Linked DNA regions of Homo sapiens. The protein of the gene in region 2 purifies or fractionates together with the protein of the main gene of each other region. This does not show direct contact. Each region holds a gene or a part of one and is shown on either strand. Other genes may lie near its edges.

Region 1 (3,652 bases), on a different chromosome or scaffold from region 2:
CCACAGCCACACAACCACTAAGTGGAATGGCCAGCACCTGTGCCCAGGTAGCCAGGCTCCAGAGCCCAGGCACATCGTGATTATGCTGTGGTCCTTTATTCTCAGGTACCACCTACCTGTTAATATACATCACACACAAGAACAAAGACGATGTGTGAATGAAAAGCCTACACCCTTTAAAAATAATTCTAACATAACTGCAGGTTCAGACTGAGTTATGTTGGCAAAGCTGCCTGTGAAAACCTGCTCTGGGAGATCTGCCCACACACTACACTAATTAATCTACTTTCATAAAGACCATGGGACTGATTTTTATCTACGAGGCATGAAATGCATGTTCAGGAGCTTTGTTTCCACCAGAAAACCATCCAAACCAAATTGGATGATTTTTTAAGTTTTTCAGCTAATATCTCAATTTTTAAAAATTTCCCACCCTTACTGAGCCAAGATGGAAAATAAAATATATCATAGTCAATGTGAGAAAGACAACAAAGGAAAAAATAGATTTTTTAAAAAATCTTTAAAAAAAGGTTAACACTCCATTAACTCTCCAGGATTTTAGGGCAAAAAGAAAAAGCGAGTTACAGACACATTTATAGAGCACATTCCACCCCAGTAACTCAATGGGAAGATGGAAGTAGGATTGGCAGCATTTAAAAAATGGTGCCCCCAAACCAGCAGGCACTCACCTGGAGACGCCCATGCAGAGTTCCCAAAATTTCAGTAGGCATTTTCAGTTTAGGTTTTTGGGAGTTTTTGGTTTTAAGGGTTCTTTTGTTTTTGTTTTTGAGATAGAATTTCACTGTGTTGTCCAGGCTGGTCTCAAACTCCTGGGCTCAAGCAATCCTCCCACCTCAGCCTCCCAAGCTCTGGGATTACGGTTGTGAGCCACTGCACTCAGCCTCTAGCATTTTTTCTTAAATCAGGTTTACATGAAACTAATGATGATGAATTCATTAATGAGGGAGAAAGGTTATATTCTTTATTACTTGAAGTGACTCTTGTTCAGGAAAACTACTGAAAGTTTACAAATGAAAATGTCAAATTGTAGCAAGAGAAGGGAAAATAAAACAGAAATTATGGTTTCAAGGACATCACGAAAATTAAATTATTTTATATGCCTTAACAGATGAGAGGACAGTTCTCAAAATGTTCTTAATTTCTTTTTTCTTGATTTGGCAAGGAACTCCTTTCACAGTAAGGAAAGAGAAAAAAAATATGGGAAGAGACAAAGGGACAGACTCACTCTCCACCCAAAACAGTAATCTGACTTGATTTTAAATGCCAATAGCTGTGCCATCTTCTTTCCTCTGGTAATTATTACCTGCTGAACTTTTACTACGTTTTGCCAGTTATGTTTATTTAACTAACTCTTTATGCAAAGGAAGATAAGATTAGGAACATAGTTCTAATCACTATGGAGCTGATGGCAATGATGCTGATAGTGGTAGAGGCAGTGACAGTGGTAACAGTGACAAGCAATCTTTTGAATCTCACTACTAGAAAGGCATTGATACACCTTCCCAGAACTCTGCAAAGTGTAGCAGAAATACTTTTTCTAAAGGTCTATTATTCACCAAAAAAAAAAAAAAAGCCCATAATCGCTGGGCACGGTGGCTCACGCCTATAATCCTAGCACTTTGGGAGGCCGAGGCAGGCAGGTCACGAGGTCAGGAGTTCAAGACCAACCTGGCTAACACAGTGAAACCTCGTCTCTACTAAAAATACAAAAAATTAGCCAGGCATGGTGGCACATGCCTGTAGTCCCAGTTACTCGGAAGGCTGAGGCAGGAGAATCGCTTGAACCAGGGAGGCAGAGGTTGCAGTGAGCCGAGATCGCACCACTGCACTCCAGCCTGGGTGACAGAGTGAGACTGTGTCTCAAAAAAAAAAAAAAAAAAAAAAAAAAAAACTACAATCAATCCCCAATAAATGTAGAATTAATGTATTTTTAAATGAATAACAGTAATATAACCTACACTCCTGGCCATAAAAGTGGAAATGTAAATAAAATCTCCCCCATATCTGTCAAACAAACAAATGAACTCTTCCCTGAAGAAATGCCATACTTTTTCACCTTTATTAAATACATTCTCCATTTGAACAATTTAGTTATTACTATTTCCAACACAAATTGAGCCAGAAATCTATTGTGGTTTGGGTAAAACACCTCCCTATCCTGAGGATTTCTAAGAAATCCAAAACTGCTGGAAATAAGCTACTAAGACACAGTCTACTGCCTTACCCAACTTTACTAGAAGATAAATCTTTATTAAAACCAACCTTCTGTTGGGGGGCTGGGGGTGGCTCATAGGAAAATGAAACAATCAGGCTCATACCCATAATCCCAGCACTTCGGGAGGCTGAGGCAGGAAGATCGCTTGAGCCCAGGAGTTCAAGACCAGTCTGGGCAACATAGCAAGACCCCATCTCTACAAAAAAAAAAAAAATTTTAAACCTAGCATGCTGGCACTTGCCTGTAGTCCCAGCTGATTCAGGAGGCTGAGACAGCAGGATCACTTGAGCCCAAGAATTCCAAGTTGCAGTGAGCTATGATTTCACCACTGCACTCTGGCCTGGGCAACAGAGTGAGACTCTGTCCCTTAAAAATAAAAGGTATTTATTTGTTGGTGTTTGGTGTTTATGTGATGGAGAAAAAACAAAACATGAATCCACATCCAGATACTTGAAGATCCAGACCCCTGATTTAGAAGTCCTGGTTTATCTACATATTGTTACAACTGGAGAAGCCAGATAAAGCAAAGGATGTGAAGACAAGCAGGGAGAAGTGTCTTGATCCTCAAGTCCTCACATTACAGGAAGCATCTGCTCTGAGAACAATAACTCCCAGCCTCTGATAATACAGTAACATTCTCCTTTGAAACAGGAGAGTGCTCCTAGCAATGGCATTTTCAATGAAACTCTATGTCAATAGAGTCAAAAACAGCCCATGAAAGAAGCAGCGTTTTCCCTCCTTCCTTCCCACAGATCCATTCTGCTCCCAGGACAGCTTTGCCCGCCCCAGTCTTGAGTACTTGAACTTTCCTATGGGCATACAAGGAACCCTTCTCCCAAAAGAAGATCTAAGAATAAAGCTGAAAACCAAGCCACAACAACATGCACCCCAATGTAGGTACTATTTGTTGCAAAAAAAAAGAGAGACTGATAACAGAGATCACAGAAAAGACCTAACAGGTGAAATTCTAGAATTAGAGTATGTAAATGTCCAAGCAAAGCTCAAATATTTATCAAAAACATCCATATATATTCTGGATCTCTGCATTGCAGGAAAACTGCCACACTAGTGGAGCCAATATTATAAATTCTTTTTTTTTTAACTTTTATTTTAGTTTCAGGGATACACGTGCAGGTTTGTTATATAGGTAAAATGCCTGTCATAGGGCTTTAGTGTACATGTTATTTCATCATCCAGGTGATAAGTGTGGTACCCAATAGGTGGTTTTTTAATACCCTCCCTCTTCCCACTCATAAATTCTTAATGAATAAATAATGAATGTGGAACTACCTTAAGTATTATGTCCTGTGATTTAATATTTCAATATTTTCTTTAGCGACTATCATAAGATCAGGGGTCATTCATTTTCAGAAATGATAGTCCAATAACGAAAGTTGAAGTCTGCCCCCATGTAAA
Region 2 (4,182 bases):
CTCTGCACCTTTGGAAGGGGACATATATGGATTTAATCAGTGGGCTCTCTTGTCCTCTGGCTTCCTTCTATTGGCCAATAGGAAGCACCAGAAAGTAACTGGAGGAAGAAGAGTGAGATTGGAGTACTTATCCTCCCAGGTCCCTCCCTGCAGTTTTGTCACAGAGTGGCTGTGCTCCTTGACTAGGGGTTACAATCCTTATCAGGCTGTCTCCTCACACAGGTCTCGCTTTTTCTCTATCTCTCCTTGCCTCCTTTGAAATTATCTTCTCCTCTTGCCTTTTTAGGCCTAGAGGTGGTAACTGCATTTTCTTAATACAAACCCTGGTGGTATGGAACTATTCTTAATATTGTCCCTTTAATGTCTCCATACCTTTGCAATTGGTTCCTTCTTAAAACTCACCTCAATTGACCCAATTTGAGTGCATCATCAGTTACCTGCTAGATCTTTAAGTGATAAAATGCATTCATACTGCCAGTAAAAAAAAAAAAAGAAAAAAACTTATGAGAGTCTGAGGAGGCATAACATGTAACACAGGGTTCCTCAACAGTGGCACTATTGCTGTTCTGGGCTGGACAAATCTTTATTGTGGGGACTGTGCTGTGAATTGTAGGATGTTAAACAGCATCTTTGCTCTAGCCTCTCCCCATTAGATGCCAATAGCACTGCCCCCTGGTTGTGACAACCAAAAATATCTTCAGACATTGCCAAGTGTACCCTGTAGAGAAGTTACCCTTATATGAGAACCACTGATCTAGAATGAACAGTAGCTGTTTTGGGGATGGGGATGCCCAAATACTCAACGGTAAATAGCAGTGAGCTGGGGCCAGCACCCAGCTGGGTTTGATGAGGACGCCCACACAGGGGTTGAAGTGAGACTTGAGGTACACCAAATAGGGAGCAGGGTCTTCTTTCTGAACAGATGAGTCAGCAAAGAAAAATGTCCCTGAGAAAATAATGAACATTCTTAATACATAAATATTATAAAAATAAGGTAACAGTCTCTTACTTGAAAAGGAATCTGGATGATTCTTAAACAGTTATCAGTTGGCCAAGAAGTGTTAACGTATTTGACATGTTTTTCTAATAAAAATGTAAATTAAAACGATATGCCATTTTATCTTATATTTATAATAATTTTGTTTAATATTGATAATATTCAATCTAAGAGAGTATAATGAGAGACACTCATCACTGCTAGTAAATTGATTCCATCTTCTTGAAAAGCAATTTAGAAACAGGCATCAAGAATCATAAATTGTTTATAACCTGTGACCTAATCATTCCAACCCCAAGAATCCATTCTAAAGAAAAAAATCAGATATAGACAAGGATTACAAACAAGTATGCTCATGTTAGCTATAACAGCTGAACACTGGAAACATAAATATCTGACATAGTAATGTTGGACATTGAAGCACATCAAAAAGTGGAACATCATATATAATAAAAATTAAACTAATTAGAATATTAAACAGCAAAAGAATATTAATGCTTATTTAAGTTAAAAAGAACAAGAAAATTGTGGATATAATCTATTTGTCTAAAAACAAATAAATAAAAACATTTAAATGCAAAAAATATATAGATTCTGAGAGTAAACTCAAAGTGTTAGCATGTGTTGACTAAGAGGTGGGATTATGAATGATGCTTATTTTTCTACTTTAAAAATGTCTAAATTTTGTAATATGAACATATATTGTTTTTATAAATGAATTATTTAAAACATACCCTAGAGAATAAAGGGGAGGAAGGCTGATTCTAGTATCAGAAATAAAGCCCTCTTCTTGTCTTGGCTTCTCTTGCTACTCCTGTTAACCTTCCCCAAGACTGGGTCTGTACCTCACCACACCCTTCTGTGTGATCACACAGTTAGAAACCCCAAAGAGAAAAGGGTAGACTGTAAACAAGGGCAAGAGACATTGAGCTCTCTATAGCAGGCATTGTTCTAAGTGCTTTACATAGATTTATTTAATCTTCACAATAGCTCTATAATATGGGTAGTCATACCCCCATTTTGAAGAAATTGAAGCACAGAAGAGTTAATTAACTTGGCTAATCTCACACAGCTAATGTGTGATACAACCTAGGCAGTCAGAGAATGGTGGGAAATGCCTCATCTGCAAATTCTGCTGTCAGAAGAACCCCATGTGGGGCAAGGACTACAGAAGGTAGGGTCCTAGTACTTGATCTTTTGTTTCTACTTCTCTGTTTTCTGCATTAGTGTCGGTGGGAGGACACTCACTGTTAAGCCTTCTCCAAGGCACATGTGTGCCTTAACCCACCCTATAGCTTAACACTAGAAAAGTGGGCTCAGCCTATCCGGAGAGCCTTTGGATGGAGTCTGAGAGGCAGGACTCCTAATTCTGCTGATGACACTATTTTTGACTCTTTTTCTGCACCCTTCGCAATCCTGCCTCTGTCTCACCCCATCCATTAAACTGTGCCTTACAGGACAGAGTACAAGGTCTTGAGTACATACCAGCGAGGACACCCAAATAGAAGACATATTTCATGGTGATCCAGCTCTTCCCCCTGTGAGATGTAGAAGAAAATCAGCAGAGTGTGGAGCGGTTGGCTTAGTTGTCTTCTCAGGAACACCTGGTAGACTCAGTGGCTATGGTTAGATACGGAGGCACTCCATGGGATTGGAAAGCAGCTCTGGGCATAAACAGGGGAGGGAGATGGCTTCAGAGAGACAGATGAAAGCCCTCTGTTCCAGGGAAGGTGGAGGACTGTGCCTCTGTTGGGGCATTTCAGGGAAGGAAACTCCTGGATTCAGCTCCTTCTATCTGCTGCCCCTAAAAACACATCTGTTTGAAGGTAGTTCAGTTGTCTGTGGAAATGGCAGCTCTAGGCTCAGGACTTATCTTCCCCACAGAGTTTCTGAGACCAGGGCTATGAGGGACAATATTCTTTACCTTAGCTCAGGGAGTAAGTGTCCTGAGGTTTGCTCTGAACCTCCTAATAGTTACTTATACTTTCCCCAGCCCCTCCCATCTTTGTTACACTAGCTTCATATGTCCCTCTGATCACTGTTTCATCACTCAGTCATCATCACCAACTTGGTGTTTTTTGTCCTGAGCAACAGCATTGAGCCAAGAAAATATGGAAATGAAAAGCATTCATAGAACAGTTATCTTGATAGTTGGGGAATTGTTTACAGTCTAGATGACATTAGGCCTGGTGACAATTCAGAAGGCAGTACCTCTAATACTTAAAGACTTAGACCAATATTAGACTACCAAAGTCATCCTTGGATAATTGGGAGCATAGTCTAACAAGAAAATGAGCGGTAACACTAATAGCTGATATCCTCTAAGCATTTACTGAATCCTAGGCACTGAGCTAAGATCTTTACGGACTTGTCAGTAGAGATTTTATATCAGGTTAGTCTGAGATGTAAAATTCACTACACTTTGTATCACTCTAACCCTTTAAAGTTTCTTAAACCCATAATCTCTTTCCAAATGTCACAACAACCCTAGAAAGAAGAGATAGGGCTGGGTCTGGTATCTATTTCTGGTCTGTGGGTGGCAGAACTGAAGCAGAGAGAATCTAAGTAGTTTTCCCAAAGTCACATGTCGTGGACAATGAGAAATAGGCCTTGTCACTGGTGTAGGGTTGCAGGTCCCCCACCAGGATACTTAAGGGTGTATGACCACTGCTTGAACCTTAATGGCTAAGTAGTGAGTCAAGGACACGGTGCCCAGCCAAGAAGCAGGTATCCTTGATGGCCAAGTGGTGAGTCAACGCCATGGTGTCCAGCTGAGGAGCAGGTGTCCTTGAGTACCCAAACATCCCAGAGAATACCTGAGAACCTATCAAGGAAAACAGTCCCATCATGCACACACAGTAGGCAAAGAGCCAGAAAATTAGCTTAAAAGCAGCTTAGAGATGGAAAGCAGGGCAGGTCTCTAAAGGTGTCCTCTGCTATCTAGGAGTGTCTCATATGTAAGTCCTAATAAACTTATCCACTGGCCAAGCTGGACTTGTCTGAGTCATTCTTTGGTCTCTTGGCTCCCTCCTAGTTTGGGGGAAAGGTTTTTTTAAAAATATGATTCTGGATTTTTCTTGTTACAATTGGCATCACAAATGGGGTCAGAGAGACCAAACTTCGAGCCAGGAATGAGTGTCTATGGTGGGGAATCCCTGGGCAGTCGGCAATGTCCATGTGGAGTG
Region 3 (3,652 bases), on a different chromosome or scaffold from region 2:
CTACAGAGCAGCCACCTGCAGTGTTGTTACCAGCCTCGTGGTTGTGCCTGGATTTTCTGTTAATTTGAGAAGGATGGATGTTTTATTTTCCTATGTTATCCCTCTCTATATCCCCTCCCCAACACAGTCCTGCCTCACATTTCTCACTCTTAACGCTTTATTCATCTGTCCATTTACCAATCCAACAATAGTGGACCTCCTCTGTGTCAAACATTGGGCCAGACACAACATCTAGTGCTGAACAAATCGTGTTTCCTGCCCTCAAGCAGCTCGTAGTCTGATAAGGGAGAGGACAAGTACACAGTCTCTTATAGACCAGTGTGATAAGAGATCCATTCAGGTCAAGGTGGTCCATAGCAGCACCTCAGTGAGCTGGGGGATCTGGGGCAGGTGGATTTAGGATAATGTGAGTTCTGAGGGAAGTGTGAATCAGAGGGGAACAATTCAAGCAGAGGAAATGATGTGTGCAAAGCAAGTTATAGAAAGCATAGTGTGGCTTGTGGTGTGATGAGTGGAGAGAAATTCTGAAGACCTCACCGTACCATGTTATCTTAGGAAAAGGATTGGCTTCTTTTTTTTGTCTAGGTAGAACATAGAGAATCTTGACTATGACTTAAATAATCTTATTAAAAAAGGGAGGATTGTTTTTATGAGGCAGAGGTTAAGGAGAGAGAAAAAGAAAGAAACGTTGAAGAGAAAGGTGAAAACAAATAAGCTGTATGTGAGGAGTGGAGGGCAGGAAACAAAGAAAATAGTAATGTTTGCATTATCTTTCGGAAGGGAAGAGGTCAAGATGTTACATTACTTTAGAGCCTTCACCACTAGGTGGTGTTATTGGCTCAAGACAGCTTGGTTACTGAACTTGTTGCAAGTCTGGGAAGTATGCCTTTTTGTTTTGAAATAAGAAGTAGTGTTGGGAAATTAGGAAATTAGTTAGAGGTTAGATTATCAAAGGTCTTTAATGCAAGGTTAAGAATCATATACTTAGCAGGCTAAGGGGAAATACTGAATATTTTCAAGCTAAAGAATAATATCACAAAGAAGTTTGAATAGGTTGACTGGGATTGGGGGCAGAAAGCAGGAATACCAAAAGACTGTAGGAATACTCTGCATGAACAAAATACCCATTCTAACTAGGTGGTAGCAGCAGAAATGCAAAGGGAACCATTTTGAGAAATTGAGAAAGAAATGTCAAGTTTGGATAACTTTTGAGAAATGAAGGTTTGAGAGCCAGGAGGCTGTAAAGATTTTAGTCCATCCTTCAATTTCTCGAATACATAGAGTCGAAAGGATTAAGCAAGTTCCTTGAATTCACACAGTTGATTAGTGACAAAGCTGGAGCTAGGTTCCACATTTGATGTTCTCCCAACCCCTTCCTTTTTGTTTGATTTGTTAGTTTGCAAACTTGGTTGATTTGGGAAGTGGTGAGATTGGAAAATAACTGGAAGAGCTGTTATTTTGCAATGGCGAAAGGGTGAAAAGTCTATATAGTTGTCCCTTGGTCTCTAAGGGAGGTTTGGGATTTTATACCCAAATCTGAGAATGCTCAAGTCCCTGATATAAAATGGGGTACTATTTATATTTTTACTGTTTTATTGTTTATTTTAAAGACGTTCTCAACCTGAGGTTGGTTGGATCCATGGATGCAGAACTCTTATATAGTGAAGGCCAATCGTATAACTTAGGTTTGATGGTATTTTAGGAGGAATGTTACGAGGTGTTTGAGAGAGGTTAGAGCTGAAATTGCAGATTTGGTGCACTGATCCTTCATGATTTGAGGCAGAGTAGATGAGATCTTTAAGGGTGGTAATAAATGCATGTGGAGGAAGAGTTGGAAGACAAGTTTGTAATGCCAGAGTTGTAGGTGAGTCAGTGTAGAGTATAAAAGAGTATGGAAGAGAATCAGGAGAATGTTGTCATTCATTTTTCATACCTGTGGATTGCCTCTTTGTTTTGGGGGACTCTGTGACCGAATGAAGGATCAGGAGTGTTGGGGAGGGGAGTGAGTGGTGTCAAAGGTGTCATGAAATCAAGGAGGATGAGCACTGAGAAAAGGTCATTGGTTTGACATTAGCTTGTGATGCGGGAACGGCTGTTCTGCCAGGGTGGACCTGCAGGATCTCTGTGGAGCAGCGTTTGGCGGAGAGGGAGTTCTAAGGAAGCCAGGGCGGTGCTGTGAAACTCCTTTTCTTGCGATCTTTGCCAGTATAAAAAAAGAGAAGAATAAGAGTGTTTGTTTGAAAGAAGCAAAGGTTTGAATGAAGTTTATTTTATTTTATTTTATTTTATTTTTTTGAGACGGAGTCTGGCTCTGTCGCCCAGGCTGGAGTGCAGTGGCGCAATCTCGGCTCACTGCAAGCTCCGCCTCCCGGGTTCAAGCGATTCTCCTGCTTCAGCCTCCTGAGTAGCTGGGACTACAGGTGCATGCCACCACGCCCGGCTAATTTTTGTATTTTTAGTAGAGACGGGGTTTCACCATGTTGGCCAGGATGGTCTCAATCTCTTGACCTCATGATCTGCCCACCTCAGCCTCCCAAAGTACTGGGATTACAGGCATGAGCCACCGTGTCTGGCCAAGCTTATTTTTTAAGTAGGAGAAGAACCTGTGTGTGTGTATGGATTCTGCACAAGGTGTCAGGAGTGGGAGGAGCTGTAGAAGAGGCAGGATTTTGTGGTATCAGAGTATCTTTATTTGCAGCTAGGGTGGGTGGCATCTCTTCTGAGGTGTAAGAAGAGAGAACAGGTGAAGAGAACATTTTAAGAGGAGGAGGGAAGATGGACTTTTCTCCCTGAAGATTTCCGTTTTCTTGCTGTACATGGAACATTCACTTTCCTGGTCTGTCATTTAGTGAAGGGTTGACCGAATCTAATTATACAGGGAGCCCAATTCAACGTATAAAATAAAGTCTTACTTACCAACTTGGGAGTGGAAGAAGTGGCCATTGTTGATTATTGGCTACTCTGCCAAGATGTCATTTAAATTACTTCTGTTTGTGGAGAAAAATACATTAGATGAGATGATCTCCATTCACAAGAGGTCAACAGTCCATTGAGCTTCTCCTTGGGCAAAGTTTGTCCTGGAATGTGGATGAGGAGAAAGTGGTTGGAGGATAAGGAATATATAGAGAGGGGAAAGAAGAGAATAGCACAGGAATGCCTCACCCTGCCAGAAATAGACACACAGCCGCTGCCTACCTGTCCTGTCTTGTCGTTCCCAGGAGCACAGAACAACTAGAACCCGTCATCTTCGTAATGCCAACAGACATGTTTTATAGGTTCATGTAGATAACTAGGTTTTATATAGAGGCTGTTTGAAAAATAGGACATCTGTTTATCTTTCTTAAGGGCAGGAACACTTCAGGAATCTATTTTGGATTGATTAAATCATGTACATGGTGAAGTTTTCTGAAAAAGCCAGATTGTAGTTCCACACTGTCATTGTCAGTAAAGACCATTCTCAGGGTTAAATTGGAACCGGTGGTTGATCATGTGAAGGCAATATTTAAAGTATGTCTTGCTAGAGTTACCAGATTATTGCAGCCCCAGTCAAAGATAACAACATATAAATGGAGTTAGCAGAAGTGATTAAATGACATATACCAAGCCTAAGGCTGCTGCTCAATTTCTAGGGTCACAGCTTCCTCCGTTCATG

Evidence for each region.
Region 1: the proteins of PRSS37 (region 2) and CD109 purify together in Homo sapiens (affinity purification with mass spectrometry; one large-scale study listed by BioGRID and IntAct). This does not show direct contact.
Region 3: the proteins of PRSS37 (region 2) and FAT1 purify together in Homo sapiens (affinity purification with mass spectrometry; one large-scale study listed by BioGRID and IntAct). This does not show direct contact.

The regions. Positions count from the first base shown.
Region 1 is NC_000006.12:73,699,051-73,702,702, reverse strand, and holds part of CD109 (CD109 antigen isoform 1 preproprotein), read right to left. Parts: intron 1-3,652. UniProt on the Homo sapiens protein: Modulates negatively TGFB1 signaling in keratinocytes.
Region 2 is NC_000007.14:141,838,534-141,842,715, forward strand, and holds the start of PRSS37 (probable inactive serine protease 37 isoform 1 precursor), read right to left. Parts: upstream 2,953-4,182; 5' UTR 2,517-2,952; coding exon 2,483-2,516; intron 1,817-2,482; exon of another isoform or gene 1,732-1,816; intron 947-1,731; coding exon 805-946; intron 472-804; exon of another isoform or gene 403-471; intron 1-402. UniProt on the Homo sapiens protein: Plays a role in male fertility. May have a role in sperm migration or binding to zona-intact eggs. Involved in the activation of the proacrosin/acrosin system.
Region 3 is NC_000004.12:186,717,310-186,720,961, reverse strand, and holds part of FAT1 (protocadherin Fat 1 isoform 1 precursor), read left to right. Parts: intron 1-3,652.